Homo sapiens: one gene and its partner. The protein of the gene in region 1 purifies or fractionates together with the protein of each later gene. This does not show direct contact. Each region holds a gene or a part of one and is shown in the gene's direction. Other genes may lie near its edges. The genes, in order: SHCBP1 and USP49.

Region 1 (3,912 bases):
ACAGTTCCTAAAACATTTGTTTTCAATGTCACAGGACTTCTTAGATGAACATTATGACATTCCCAAGATATCCATGGTGAATAATATAATACATAATAATGAAGGTTATGGTGTTGTCTTGGTGAAACCTACAATCTTCTCTGACCTGCAAGAAAATGCTGAAGATGGAACTGAAGGTATATTTAGTAATTTTTAATATAAAAACCAGACATAATTTATTTCAGCATTAAATGCTGATTAAGGATCTGAGTCTTCCTCTCTTCCTTAAAAAAGGTTGTTGGGATATGCTTGGGCATGGAGAGAGAGAAGCTTGGTAACATTAAGTCATAACATTACAGACTGTGAAAGAAACTTTCAAGGTCAACTAGTTCAACTGTCATTCAAAATCTTGATGTTGTGGTTTCTGTGCAGTTCCCTTCTTATCATGGTTAGCTTTCAATGAGGGTGGATGTGTGATAGCAACGATGGGTGTGTGATAGCAATGGTGGGTGTGTGATGCTATGGTGGGTGTGTGACAGCAACAGTGGGTGTGTGACAGCAATGGTGGCTCCTACTGGCGTTTGTTAAGGCTGGAGACAGTGAAATGAATGTGCCAGGCTGAAGGCTGCATTTCCTGGAGGGGATAGTGGAGTTTACCTCTGTTTTTATTGGTAGAAGTAAATGCCTTCCTGTCACCTGCCTTTCTTGGCAGCGAAGGGGAGCTAACTCAGTGGAAATCTGTGAACTTCAAGCTATGATGTAGACCACTATTAAGTCTCAGTCATAGAGAAGGATTAAGCTTTGATGTAGGTGAGGAAAGTTTAAAGCAGTTTATTTATTTAATCAGCTTTTTCAGGTTGAAAGAGTTTAAAGGGTAGTCCTTGTCATCCTTCAGGATCTGCTCCAGTTACATCTCTGCAAGTTCTTTATTTCTTCACAGGTCTCACAAAAGTAAAATAAAGGTGTCAGCTGGGCAGGACTCATCTGAAAGCTCTGGGGGCAGACTCTGTCTCCAAACGCATTCATATCATTCATGGGCAGAATTCATTCCTTTAGCTCATGGGTCTGAAGTCTCCATTTTCTTGCTGGCTGCTGGCTGTTTGCTGGGGCTGGCACTCAGCTCCTAGAGGCTGCTCTCAGGTTCTTGCCTCATGGCCCCCCCATCTCAGCAACAGAGAACATCCCTCAAGGCAAATCTCTCATGCTCTGAATTTCTCTGACTTCCTCTTTAGCAACCAGCTGGAGAAAACTGATTAGCAATCTTAATTACATTGTAAAATTACAGTGCAAAATTCTTCTGCCATTTAATAGGCATGAAAGTAATACCAGGGGGTGGGGATCATGGGGCCTATCTAGAATTAGCTGCTAGATTGGGACTTCATTTAGAAAAGTGGCACTATCTTATCAATCTGTGCATCCTATCTCCTAACGCAGTGCTTAGCAGATAGTAACTATCCAGGAAATGTCTGTTGAGTAAAAGTGATTCTGGGATGAAAAGGGTAAAGGAAGAGTTCAAAATTGGTGATCCTGTGTGAGGGTCAGGGAACCTTGGTATAGAAAGCAAGGCAGCTGCTTGTTGAGAAGACTGTGTAGAAATATATGTTTTTGTTGGGTTAGCTTGTATATTTAACTTTGTTATTATTTGTTTGTTTCTCCAGAAAATAAAGCGCTTAAAATTCAGACAAGTGGAGAGCCAGATGTGGCTGAAAGAGTGGATCTAGAAGAGCTGATTGAGTGTGCAACTGGTAAAATGGAGCTTTGTGCAAGAACTGACCCTTCTGAGCAAGTCGAGGGAAATTGTGAAATTGTAAATGAACTAATTGCTGCCTCCACACAGAAAGGCCAGATAAAGAAGAAAAGGTTGAGTGAACTGGGGATCACGCAAGCTGATGACAACTTAATGTCACAGGAGATGTTTGTTGGGATTGTGGGGAACCAGTTCAAGTGGAATGGGAAAGGTAGTTTTGGCACATTTCTTTTCTGACTACAGTGATGTAAGTAGATAGCAAAATACTGGATTTTGCACATGCTGCCCTAAGAATCACTGCTGCCATTGTAGTTTGCTGTATTGTCTGTATTTTATATTTGATTATTTGGGCTTGAGTGAAAGGTAGATTTATTTCCATTTGCAGGTGTTGCACATAAAACACTCCCTCTTTATAAGAAAAATCATAAATGCATATAAAATAGAAAATATTTGGAGATTGCTTATCTGAAAGTCTTGCTTTCTTATACACATGGTTCTCTCATATTAAGCCTGGTAGTAACTTTTTAGTGTAATTACCTTTAGCACTTCAAAGACGAGGAAGTAAGGAAGGGAATGCAAGACTAGTGCATAAAAATGCAATAGGTGTCATATGTACAGCATTCTTCTTAGAGTTGCCTTTTCATCCCAATTACAGTGAGTCTGATTTCCATCCTGTATTTGCATAATACTTGTCTTAAAATAAAAGCTTTTATGATTGGGAATTTATCTGCCTAATCAGACTTATTATTGAGACGTCAATGGGACGCATTTTTCTGTTGAGCTATGCAGTCGTCAAAACAGCGATAGACAGCATAGGAGGTTTGAAGCAGAAATGAAATGTGTTATTCAGAGCCAATGTTGTACATAGAGCATTTTCACTATTGCTGAATGGGAATGATTAAAAACAAGGTATTTTTCGGGCCAGGCGGTGGCTCACGCTTGTAATCGCAGCACTTTGGGAGGCTGAGGCAGGAGGATCACTTGAGCCCAGGAGTTCAAGACTAGCCTAGGCAACATAGTGAGACCCTGTCTCTACTAAAAATAAATTTAAAAAAAATTAGCTGAGTGTGGTGGTGCATGCATGTAGTTCCAGCTACTCAGGAGGCTGAGGCTAGAGGATCCTTGAGCCCAGGAGGTTGAGGCTGCAGTGAGGTGTGATTGCGCCACTGCATTCCAGCTTGGGCGACAGAGCGAGACCCAGTCTCAAAAAAAAAAAAAAGTATTTTTCTCTTACCGTTACAGTATTCTGATTATATTACTGACACAGTCAAAATGATTAACTGTACAACCTGTATCTGCTGGGTGTTCTTGTTATCATATTGTAAAACAGCTTTAAAAATATTTATATTTTAAAAACTGTATGTGACATTAATATGCCTAATGATTAAAATTATAGTGATGAAATAACAAAATTGAATCTTGTTATATCTTTTCAAACTCACTGTGGGCCATAGTGTCAGTGTAGCATATGTGGTCATTTAAGAATACATGGTATTTTGGTATCTGTTTTCATGCTTTAGAAAGAGTATTACATTTTTTCCCATTAAGTGTGGTTATGTTTGTTTTTTAAATTTGAGTAAAAAATAATTCTTATTTTTTGGATGCTACTAAATGTAGGATTTATGTTAGATTTATTATTTGATCATTGAAAGGTATTTTTACTTTTAAAAAATCTTGTTGCAAGGAGGTTTAAAAAGTAATGTTCATTTCTGCATCAGTTTCAGCCAAATGTTGATATTAAAACCTTTTATTCTTTTTTTTAATTTTTGCCTCTAGATGTGATGCCTTAAGATAAAAACCATTTATTCAACTTAAAAAAAAATCACTTTTTTTTTTTTTTTGAGATGGAGTCTTGCTCTGTCACCCAGGCTGGAGTGCAGTGGCACTATCTCGGCTTACTGTAACCTCCACCTCCTGAATTCAAGCAATTCTCCTGCCTCAGTCGCCTGAGTAGCTGGGATTATAGGTGCCCGCCACCATGCCCAGCTAATTTTTTTTTTGTATTTATTTTATTTTTATTTTATTTTGTTTTGTTTTTGAGATGGAGCTTCACTTTGTCACCCAGGCTGGAGTGCAGTGGCATGATCTCGGCTCATTGCAACCTCAGTCTCCTGGGTTCAAGTGATTCTCATGCCTCAGCCTCCCAAGTAGCTGGTATGACAGCCACCATGCCTGGCTAATTTTTG
Region 2 (3,912 bases), on another chromosome or scaffold:
CGGCTCACTGAAACCTCTGCCTCCCAGGTTCAAGTGATTCTCCTGCCTCAGCTTCCCGAGTAGCTGGGATTACAGGTGCGTGCCACCACGCCCAGCTAATTTCTGTATTTTTAGTAGAGAGAGGGGTTTCACCATGTTGGCCAGGCTGGTCTCGAATTCCTGACCTCAAGTGATCCACCTGCCTTGGCCTCCCAAAGTGTTGGGATTACAGGTGTGAGCCACTGCACCCATCCGGCCTGAAACAGGTGTTTTTTTACTGTAGCAGTGAAGAATACCTTGACCTCTAGCACAACTTGGTGCAGTTGCCTTGATTTGTGCTAAGGCAGCAGTTTTACCCATTGCTACTTTTGTATCATTGTGCAAATATCATCACAGTGACAATGCAGATATGTCTCAGTATTATTAGGAAAATCGTTTTGATCTCAGGCACCCCACTATCCCCCCAGCCCAAAGGGTCTCAGAGATCCCTAGGCCTTTCCAGGCGACACTTTTTTTTTTTTTTTTTTTTTTTTGAGATGGAGTCTCACTCCGTTGCCAGGCTGGAGTGCTGTGGCACGATCTCAGCTCACTGCAACCTCCAACTCCCTGGTTCAAGCAATTCTCCTGCCTCAGCCTCCTGAGTAGCTGGGATTACAGGCACACGCCACCACGTCCGGATAATTTTTGTATTTTTAGTAGAGACGGAGTTTCACCATGTTGGCCAGGCTGGTCTTGATCTCCTGACCTCATGATCCACCTGCCTTGGCCTCCCAAAGTGCTGGGATTACAGGCGTGAGCCACCGTGCCCGGCCTCCAGGCCACATTTTTGAGAACACTGATCTAATACATGCTCACATCACTGAGAAACTTTTCCTCCTGTATTGCTATTCTGGGAGCATCCCTTCCATTGGAAGTTTTAAGTGGCTCCCAAATTCTTCACTCAGCAAAAGCACCTTGTTATGGAACTAACATTGAATAAGTAACAATCTTTCTTCTCCAAGAATTTTCTTGGGGATTGTTGAGTAAGGGAATAAGACATATAATTAGAGTTATAATGTTAAGAATTCCTTAAAAAGAATTATGTTAACTGTGATGGACGACAAAGGGAGAGCTAAATTCTGAATCTAACTCTGAGGCCTTGAACCTCATGATAAATCCCGACCAAACCAAATTGAAACACTCCACTTCCTCTCCTTCTATCAAACCTCTTTTAAAAGTGCAAGTTGTTAATAAATTGCCTACACAGCGCTTGGTCCAGGCATTGTAGTTTCCCCCTTCCTATTGTGTGTGGTGTTCTTTTTTTTTTTTTTGTGCTTACCTAGTTCTCCTGTTTACAGGTGTGTAACTTGAGCCACTACTATAGCTAATGTCTGTTTCTTTTACTTGTCCTTATATTTAAATGTAAGTCTTTATCTGCCTTAGCTATGTGTTGGGTGTTGAAATTGTTGATCTTATTTTGGGAGACTCCCATCCCCTCCCCCCACTACCACCCCGCAAGTAGTTTCAAGACAGTGCACCTAGGAGACTGCTTAACCTAAGCCTTTTGTAGCTTAGGTGCTGTTCTGTTTCCCAATGGACCACTACCAAGTCAGTCTGGTTTATTTCCCAAGCCTTACAATCTGCTGAACTTCTTCAGTTCCGGCAGCGATCCTCTAACTTGTGGGGGATTTCCATAAAACAGCTGAATCTCTCTTGGGTCATCTGTGGCAAAAGCCAGACACGTGCTCACCCGCCTGGGAGCCAATAGTAACTTTTGCAAACGCTGCCTCCGGAAACCCCACGGTTTGAGGGCTGCTGCTTTAGGAACAACACAGAAATAACGTCTTTTAACAGAATAAAACAAAACATACGGACGGGATAGTGAGAAAGCCTTTGTCCTTCGCAGTGGGGAGAGGTGTTAAAGGTGAACCGAAAAGAGTATGGGAAACTCATGTAAAATACCTTTACAGTTCCCCGGGAAGAAGGGGGCGGAGATGGGCTCGGGAGCGTCTCTGGCCCTTTAAGGAGGAGGGACAGACATAAGAGTCTGTACCTTTAAGAGTCTCTTTGTCTGGAAACCTTCTTATTTACCCTCCTGTGCTTCAACCAAACTTCGACCAGCTATTCACAACGTCCCCCTACGCCGCCGCCCCTTACGCCAGGCTCAAAGCGGCCGCGCGTTTGTGGCTGACCCTAAACTTTGCGCCTGCGGCGCGAACCCTCGGAACGGGTGCCGGTGCCGGGGTCGCGGCCCAGCGCTGCGCCGTTGGCGCAATGCAGGGCCTGAGGGGCGGGGCTCCAGCGGGCGGGCCAATAGACGGGCAGGGGGCGGGGCCGTGTTCGGTTGTCTCGCGCCCTGGTGACAGCTCGCGCGTGCTGATGATGGCGGTAAATAGAGGGGGCCGGGGGAGGGGACGGAGGAGGTGGGGAGGCAGCAAAGTGGGTAGCTCCAGGGGGTAGGGGGAACGGGGGCCGGGGAGGCCGCGACGGCCAGGGAGCCCATTCTAAGACTCGGAGGCGGGGATAGGAGTCTCCGGCTCACTAGCCCTCCCCTTTAAAGAAGCAAAATCCTCACACACCGGGTGAGGGGCGACAAAGGCAGCGCGCGCCTCGCGGGCGGGAGGAGCGGCGGCAGGGGGCGGGACCGCGGCGCCGGCGGGCTGGGGGCGCCCGGGGCGGGGGCGGCGGGAGGCGAGAGCCGGGAGTCGGGGCGCGCGGGCGCCTTATTTTGGCGGGGTGGGCGACGGCTGGGTTGGGGCAAAAGCGTTGAAGGGAGAGGGAAAGGAAGGCTTGGAGGCGATGAGGGGAACCGGGTTGAGAATGAGATGAGGAGGATTAAGGGGAGAAAGGGTTAGAAGCCAGGGAGAGGAGGAGTGAGAAAAAGCCAGCCAAGGAGATAGGAAGGAGGCAAAAGCCAGGGTGGGCGTTAAGGAAGCCGGGCAGGGAATGAGGTTAGGGCTGGGGAAAGGGATCCTGGGGTTAGGTGTAAGAGCAGGGGTTTGAAGGGGAAATCTTCGTAGCGGGTGGTGTTGGGGTGAGGGGTACCGGGGTAAGTGTTGGAAGTGGAAGACAAGGAGGGGCAGAGCTGGGGTAATAGTTGGGAGTAGGAAAGAGAGAGTGATTAAGAGCCAGACGTGACGAGGGTGTGAACTAGTGCGGAGCGAGATGAGCTGAAGGACTGGGACCAACGGTGTGGTGGGAACTGCTGGCGAGGTTCTGAGAAAGGAATGGGTTAGTGGGTGGGCGATGGATGTAAATTCTGTAAAGTGAGGGAGGGCAAATGAGACCTGGACTGGAACCAGGTGGAGTCAGGAATAAGAGTGTGGTGGAAGGGCGAAAGGAAACAGATAAGAGATGGGTGTCTGTAGGACGATTCTGGGACCAGAAGAGCTGAAAGGAGACTAGAGTTAGGGTGTAAGAAGTGATGGCCATCTGGGACAAGGATAACTGGGTAATTACGTTAATTGAAGAGGTTCAGCAAGATCCAAGGTGAAAACAGTGAGGTAAAGAGACAGGGCTAAAAGCAAATGGTGAGAGGAGCAGGAAGAGATGGGCCCCAGAATTTAAAGGATGAGATGGGGAGTAAGGGAAGAGAGGGGGCTAAGAGAAGCTGGGGGAGTCCTGATGGATGTAGAACTGGGGTAGACTGCAGGGGGGTGGGAATCGAATGTGCGTGTTATGGGGAGTTGCTCCAGAAGGTCTGCAAGGGTCAGGGCAGAAATGCTGTAGTGAAAGATCAAGTGTAAGAGAGCCTTTGGTGCAGAAGACGAGGAACCATGGTGAGTGAAAGGGGACCTAGAGACAGGGGTAAAGACTAAAAAGTAAGGGCAGAGGTGGGGGGTGCAGGAAAGGAATTCTTTGTTGAGGAGAGAACTGTGTGTTGAAACTGTGAATCCTTTTGTCCCTAAAAGTAGGAAATTCCAGAAACCTCTTTCTCTCAAGAAATCTTGAATC

The links.
Region 2: the proteins of SHCBP1 (region 1) and USP49 purify together in Homo sapiens (affinity purification with western blotting; 2 studies listed by BioGRID and IntAct, with this or other methods). This does not show direct contact.

Annotation. Positions count from the first base shown.
Region 1 is NC_000016.10:46,579,780-46,583,691, reverse strand, and holds part of SHCBP1 (SHC SH2 domain-binding protein 1), read left to right. Parts: intron 1-34; coding exon 35-176; intron 177-1,637; coding exon 1,638-1,963; 3' UTR 1,964-3,912. UniProt on the Homo sapiens protein: May play a role in signaling pathways governing cellular proliferation, cell growth and differentiation. May be a component of a novel signaling pathway downstream of Shc. Acts as a positive regulator of FGF signaling in neural progenitor cells.
Region 2 is NC_000006.12:41,893,758-41,897,669, reverse strand, and holds the start of USP49 (ubiquitin carboxyl-terminal hydrolase 49), read left to right. Parts: upstream 1-2,294; 5' UTR 2,295-2,346; intron 2,347-2,531; exon of another isoform or gene 2,532-2,540; intron 2,541-3,912. UniProt on the Homo sapiens protein: Deubiquitinase that plays a role in several cellular processes including transcriptional regulation, cell cycle progression or innate immunity.